2 linked regions of the Homo sapiens genome follow. The protein of the gene in region 2 purifies or fractionates together with the protein of the main gene of each other region. This does not show direct contact. Each region holds a gene or a part of one and is shown on either strand. Other genes may lie near its edges.

The links.
Region 1: the proteins of RXRG (region 2) and SNX8 purify together in Homo sapiens (affinity purification with mass spectrometry; one large-scale study listed by BioGRID and IntAct). This does not show direct contact.

Annotation. Positions count from the first base shown.
Region 1 is NC_000007.14:2,258,665-2,262,475, forward strand, and holds part of SNX8 (sorting nexin-8), read right to left. Parts: intron 1-3,811. UniProt on the Homo sapiens protein: May be involved in several stages of intracellular trafficking. May play a role in intracellular protein transport from early endosomes to the trans-Golgi network.
Region 2 is NC_000001.11:165,400,275-165,403,938, forward strand, and holds the end of RXRG (retinoic acid receptor RXR-gamma), read right to left. Parts: intron 1,137-3,664; coding exon 989-1,136; 3' UTR 648-988; downstream 1-647. UniProt on the Homo sapiens protein: Receptor for retinoic acid. Retinoic acid receptors bind as heterodimers to their target response elements in response to their ligands, all-trans or 9-cis retinoic acid, and regulate gene expression in various biological processes.

The sequences.
Region 1 (3,811 bases), on a different chromosome or scaffold from region 2:
GAGACAGCAGCTGCAGGAAGGACGTGCTGCTGATCCAGGAAGAGAGGCGGCCGCCCCAGGCTGCACGCAGAAGCACCACACTCGGCGGTGGGGGCAGCGGTGGACACAGGCTCCTCTTCGGCCCTCACACAAGGCTCTGTGCGGGCAGCACAGCCACAGAGAGAGCCCAACAGGGCAGTGAGTGCACAGCAAACGGCGGGCAGCCCTGGAGTGGAACAGGGGCCCCATCACGGCAGAGGGATGCCCTGCTCCCAGAGTCACCACAGCACCTGGGGACACGAAGCAGCCCCCACGGGCGAACCCCACCCAGACGCTGCCTCGGCCTCCCCGGCTTACACCAGTAGCAGCCCTCGGTGGGGGCGCAGGCCAGGCACAGTGCACACGGCCCGAACACACGGTGCTCAGAGGCATCTGCGGTATGAAGAGTCGGTCCAAAGCCCTGGGCTCCAGCTGCCACTGAGGGGAGCATCCAAGCTCTGGAGACAGCAGGGGTCTGGGGAAGGCAGCGGAAGCGGCAGCCCATCCACCCCTGACCTGCACAGCTCACCACAGACCCCCCAGCCACAACCGCAACCAAGCCAGGCCGATGGCAGGTATCCTGGGGAAACCCCCGACACTGACGCCTTCAGTCACACCCGGGCCCTGAAGGGCTCCGGTCCCCACAGCTCACGCCCTCAGTCCCCACAGCTCACTGAGCACCTCGGGGAGACCAAGCTCCCTCCACGATTCCTCGGGCTCCACCCGTGGTAGGGGGTGAAAAGCTCACCCCACGCACTGCACGTCAAGCTCAGCAGGAGACGGGGCAGGCAGAAGTGGATGGAACGAGTTTTACGGGACACAGCCCTGGAATGGGAGCCAGGGGTGCCGCCCAGGCCCTGCTGCACCCCAGGGGACCCTAAGATACCCCTTCCACCCTCCAGACCTCAGGCCGACTGAACCCGGAGGCTCCCCGGCCACCAACCCCACACCCAAAGCAGCTGGGATTCCAGCCAGTAAAATGTGCCAGGAGAAGAGGTGTGTTAAGAGTTTCTAAAACTCTAGAGAGAAAACGCCAGCTGACCGCAGGTGCCCAGCTCCCACCTGACCAGGCAGGGGCTCAGGAGAATGTAGGCTTATTCCCTGGCCCAGCAGAAGAGGGGGAGTTCAGGGGTCCCTCTGTTCGTGTCATTTGTCACCAAGTCCCATCTGTGGTTCAGTGCTGCACAAGGCCCTAAACCAGGGGTGTCCAATGTTTTGGCTTCCCAGGGCCACATTGGAAGAAGAAGAATTGTCTTGAGCCACACATAAAATACGCTAACACTATGATAGCTGATGAACTAAAAAAAACAAAAAAGGAAAAAAGAAAGAGAGAGAGAAAGAAAGAGAGAGAGAGGAAGGAAGGAAGGTAGGTAGGTCTGTGTGTAAATCTCATAATGTTTTCAGAAAGTTTACAGATTTGGCTTTTTTTTTGAGACAGAGTCTTGCTCTGTTACCCAGGCTGGAGTGCAGTGGCATGATCTCAGCTCACTGCAACCTCCGCCTCCCAGGTTCAAGCGATTCTCTCCTGCCTCAGCCTCCCGAGTAGCTGAGATTACAGGTGCCCGCCACCACGCCTGGCTAATGTTTGTATTTTTAGTAGAGATGGGGTTTCACCATGTTGGCCAGGCTGGTCTCAAACTCCTGACCTCAGGTGATCTGCCCATCTCAGCCTCCCAAAGTGCTAAGATTACAGGCATGAGCCACTGCACCCAACCAAGTTTACGGATTTGTGTTAGGCCACATTCAAAGCTGTCCTGGGCCACACGCAGCCTGTGGGCCACAGGTTGGACAAATGTGCCCTAAACCATTAATGCATGCGCCTTTAACCAAGGCGAAGATCCCGTCACCATGGAAAACACAGACCCTACTCCGAGTCTCACGTGTCTTGCTGGGATATGGCTACCTTCAGCTCCTAATAGGTCTGGGGAGAGTATAACTGGTGTAAGTACAAGCAGACTTAGGAAAAACGGTCCTCGCTGCCCCCGACTGAACAGCAAGGGTGAGATGGAACTTCTGCTGCATCAAATGAAAGGCCTCGAGGTTTGTTTCATGTAAAAGCTCAATTTCACTACAACCAAGGACAGTGAGAGAGATTCAGGAAACAGCACTTCTCCAGACATCACAGTCCCAAAACACAACTCATGAGATGTCCAAGAGTCACAGAGCTGGGCAGAACCTCAAGCCATAAACTCCTACTGCACCAGAAGCCTCAACCTTCTCTCCCTCTTCAAGGTGGAAATGCGGCATCCAGGGCTGAATCAGAAAAAACCTTGGAAATCACCTCATGAGTGATGCTCATCCTGAGCTCTGCAGAGCCCCAGGGCACTCTGGGCACCCCGCCAACAGCCACCTGCTGAAGAGGGAGTGGAATGTGGGAAGGTTCTGGGTCCCTGTGACAAGAATGGCTTTTATGCTTTGCACACTGAGCTTGGGGGAAAGGGTCAGCAGATTACAGAAACAGCTCCTTTGGCTGGGCACAGAGGCTCGTGCCTGTAATCCCAGCACTTTGGGAGGCCGAGGCTGGCGGATCACTTGAGGTCAGGAGTTTGAGACCAGCCCGGCCAACACGGTGAAACCCCATCTCTACTAAAAATACAAAAATTAGCCGGGTGTGGTGGTGCACACCTGTAATCCCAGCTACTGGGGAGGCTGAGGCAGGAGAATCGCTTGAACCCGGGAGGCAGAGGTTGCAGTGAGCCGAGATCACACCACTGCCCTCCAGCCTGGGCGACAGAGCGAGACTCCGTCTCAAAAACAAACAAAAAAAAGAAATAGCTGTTTTAATAATCTAGTCCAACCCCCTTGTATTTAATTGATGGGGAAACTGAGGCCTGGAGACCAGAATAGCTTGATCATGGTCACAGCACAGACACACAATGCATAGGGCAGGGCCCTGAGGTCCTCTGTCTCTATCCTGAAAAGCCCCCAGCCCCACGTTCTCGGTCCCCTCCACCTGGGGGGAGTGGGCACACAGACCTGGAGACAGAAGAGACTCAGCCCCAATCTACAGAAACCAACAGTGCCCTCCCTCCGTTTCTAAAGGGAACACAGAAGCACGGGGGCGGAAGAGGAAGAAAACCCAAGACTTTCCACACCAGCAAAGACATCGAATTTCCTCTTCAGCACGAAAAACGTCACGGGCACCTGAGCGCCCCGTTTCCAGCTTAAAAAGCCCCGACTCCACAGCAGGTGGGTTCACCATTCACCAAGCCACTCAGGAGCTCCGGGGCTCAGGGGAAGCACAGCCCTCACGGGCACACTCTGATCACTCTCTTCAAACTAATATGAGTAGCCTGGAGGCCACTTTCCCAAGAAATAGGAACTAGGCAGCAAGCTCCCACATTCACAACTATGTCCACTTTTTTTTGTTTTTGAGACAGGGTCTCGCTCTGTCGCCCAGGCTGGTGTGCAGTGGCACCATCATGGCTCACTGAAGCCTCTACCTCTTGGGTTCAGGTGATCCTCCCACCTCAGCCTCGTGAGTAGCTGGGACTACAGACACGCACCACCACCCCTGGCTAATTTTTTTTTATTTTTGATAGAGATGAGATCTTGCTCTGTTGCCCAGGGTGGTCCTGAACTCCTGGGCTCAAGCAGTCCTCCTGCCTCAGCCTCCCAAAGCGCTGGGATGATAGGTGTGAGCCGCTGTGCCCAGCCATGTAACACTTTTTCTTAACATAAAAGCACCCAGATGAGCTTTCCAGTGTGATAGTAAACACCGTATCTTCAAACTGATCCCAAATGACTCCAAGATCTTGGCGAATTTCTGAAATCAGCTTCTGCCCATGCAGCA
Region 2 (3,664 bases):
GGTACGTGAGTTGAAGACAGTGAGCTATATGGGCTGTCAGTGGTGTCAGACACAGTCTATACCTTCAAGGAGCTCATTGTCCAGCCAATGGTTGGGATTCAAAAACTAGGTGACTCTGGACATCCTAGACTAGAAGGTGGGAGAGGTTTCCTCTCTTTCCCTTTTAAGAACAGGCTGCACAGGGTTAGATAAGATTAGAAAATAAATTTGGTGTACTCTAGTCTTTTGACTATCATTGCTAGCTCATGATATAACAGAAAAATCTATTCCTTTGTTACCGCCTCCCACCAACTCCCAGAACCGGAGATCTTCCACCAACTCCCAGGACAGAGAACATCTCTCCTGTGGCCTTATACTCAATTGCCTCCAATTAGAATAAGTCTTTTTCTGCTCATTATTCTTAGTAGAAAAACAAAAACAAAAAACCAAGTTAATTTTGAAAGACAGCATCTCTTCCCAGTCTCCCCAGAATGTGCCCTGGGGCAAAGCTGGCTGTGCAGCAAAGCCCAGCTTAGATTCAGGCATTGTGCTCTGGGATTTATGGTCTCAGGACCCCAGCCCCAGCCTCGACCCCAGCCTCTGATATCCCTTCTCTATGTCTGAGACGACTTCCCTGTAGCACAATAACACACCCCATGCTCCAGCAGTGCCAATTTCACACATATTATTTTATTACTCATTTGTTTGCTTTCCAGGGCAAGTGAAAAAATAATTTAAACCAATTGTATGTACAGAGGCTTGATTAGTTTTCCCAAGAACTTCCAGAAAGTCTCCCAGCCCTGTAGACAGCAAAGCGTATTACCTTTAACATCTATACAAAAGTCCACCTATAAAAGTCTCATGTGTAGAAAGGTTTTCTTTATTATAAGCATCACATTTTGGGGACAGGAAGGGGGTCAGGGTGGGAGGTGGAGGAAAGTGCAGGGTGGGGGTCCACACACACCTGCCCAGGGGTCATCCTGGGTGGGGAGGCTGTGGCTGGTGGGGCTCAGGTGATCTGCAGCGGGGTCTCCAACATCTCCATGAGGAAGGTGTCAATGGGGGTGTCCCCGATGAGCTTGAAGAAGAAGAGGTGCTCCAGGCATTTCAAGCCAATGGAACGCAGAGCTGGGAGGCGCAGCAGCAGCTTGGCAAACCTGCAGGGAAGCCAAGAGGCATCAGGGACAGGGACGGGCAGGCACTGCACACCTGCACCTGCTGGCAGGAGGCCGTCCAATTGGCCTTCTCGACCCATCTGTGATAAAAGAGCTGGAAGGGTAGACAAGGGGGTCACAGAATCTCTAAGCCTAAAGAGCTTCAGAAACAGGCTGGAGGGCTTGTCAGCCTTAACAGAAGCTGGAGCGCATGACCCTTCAAGAATCTTGAATTCTGTAGCCATGTCCCAGGACTGCCCTCAGCTCCCCTCATTCACAGTGGAGAAGAGGAAGAACTAGATGACTGTGTCCACTCACTTTGCCAGCCATACTGGCTCCTCACATTCTCTGTGTCCCTCGGGTACCCGCACAGATCTGCTGAGGCACTTAGAGCCAAGCGTGAGACACTGAATGTGCTCAACCCATGGTAGCTGTCACCATTAGATGACACGTTTGAGAACCTTACTCTAGCCATCATGCCATCAATTTGCTTTAGTTTCCAGCCCCCACAAAAAATCTTTTTAAGAATGGGTTCTCACCATGTTACTCAGGTTGGACCTGAGTACCTAGGCTCAAGCAATCCTCTCACCTCAGCCTCCCAAGTAGGCGGGACTACAGGCACATGCCTTGGGGTCCACAGTCACCAAATTTTTGTTGCCAATTTGTAACCAATTGTTACCAATTTTTTTTTTTTGAGACCGAGTTTCACTCTTGTTGCCCAGGCTGGAGTGCAATGGCCCAGTCTCAGCTCACTGCAACCTCTGCCTTCCGGGTTCAAGCAATTCTCCTGCCTCAGCCTCCCAAGTAGCTGCGAATACAGGCTCCCACCACAATGCCTGGCTAAATTTTTGTAGTTTTAGTAGAGACAGGTCTTTGCCATGTTGGCCAGGCTGGTCTTGAATTCCTGACCTCAGGTGATCCACCCACCTCAGCCTCCCAAAGTGCTGGGATTACAGGCGTGAGCCACCGCACCCGGCCAATTGTTACCAATTTTTATGATCAACTTATTAGTCTATGCTTACCCTTAAATTAGGAAAAGAGAAAATCATAGTCTCTGCCCTTGAGGAGTCTATGGTCTGTTTGGGGAGAGGATACATGGCACACATGCATACACACTGACCCACACATTATCCTACACACTCACACATGCTTCACACCCATGTGCCCGCACACACATCCTCACCACTCACACACGCACACTCACACTCTTTTACACTGTCACATTCCCTTGCATACATGCACTTACACACACACCCTCACACATACACACATGCCCACTCATGCACACTTTCACATGAACTCACATGTGCCTGCACACACACCTTCACACACACTCATGCACACACACCTTCACACACTCTCATGCATACACACCTTCACACATACTTCACATGTTTGCACACGCATCCACACACTCATGCTCTCACACTATATTCATGCACATTATACACAATACACATACTCACACATGTGCACACACTCATTCTCACATATCTCATGCCTGTGGTCTCACATACATGCACATGCACACTCTTACACACACGTGCATGCATGCACTCACACATACACACATGCAGACACACTCCACACTCACACTCTAACATGTTCTTACAACATGCACACACACATACCCTCACACACTCACTCATACACACCCTCACACACATTTTTCTATAACTGAGGACATTTGTTGTGAGATTCACAAAAGGGAGAAAGACCAGTGTGTGAAGGAATTCATCTCCCATCTGCATGTCCTTTCGGGTACTTCTCTCTGTGACATTTTTCACTCTGTCTGTGTGACCCTCTGTGCACAGTGCAATGCCAGCTCATTTTTAACGTTATTAATGCTACTAGACATAAAGTCACTCTACTCACAACTTCCAAAAAAAGCTCAAGGACCAAAATCACTTTAGTCACTGTGGCCCTAAGTCAGAGATTTCTGGTTCCAGATGAATCTTTACTGAGTGTCACAACATTATTTCATGAAAAAGTTACAAATTAGAATTTCAATGTTCCTTGAAAATGTGTATATTTCTACACTTATGCCATAAGACATTTTAAAGAAATGTAGCAATACAAGGAAAATAAAGCGGCACCATCTAAAAAAGTAGAAATTGCTTCCCTACATGGAAAAATTAAAGATCTATGCCAATGCTACACATTACTTCAAAAGCCTCCAGTGGTAAAGCCCCTGAAAGCATTTGAGTGGCATCACCATTCAGGAAAGAGGTAGTTAGAGAATAAGGAGGCTGAACTCCCGGCCGTGCCTCTGCCGTTAAGCTTTATGGAAGTAGGCAAAGGAAACAGCTTCTCTGTAAGTACAAAGTTAGACTGGGATTAACTTTAAAAAATTTTTTTAACTCTAAAAAGGCCACGATTTTACAATATCTAAAATTCGAAGTATGCCATCATACTACCCTCTTTGTTGTGTGACCTGGATTTAGGAACTGAGATCAAGGCTAATAGAAATAAACACACCCATGAACGTCACAGCATTCCTCACCCACAGGTTAGCAGCAAGGGGCATTTAT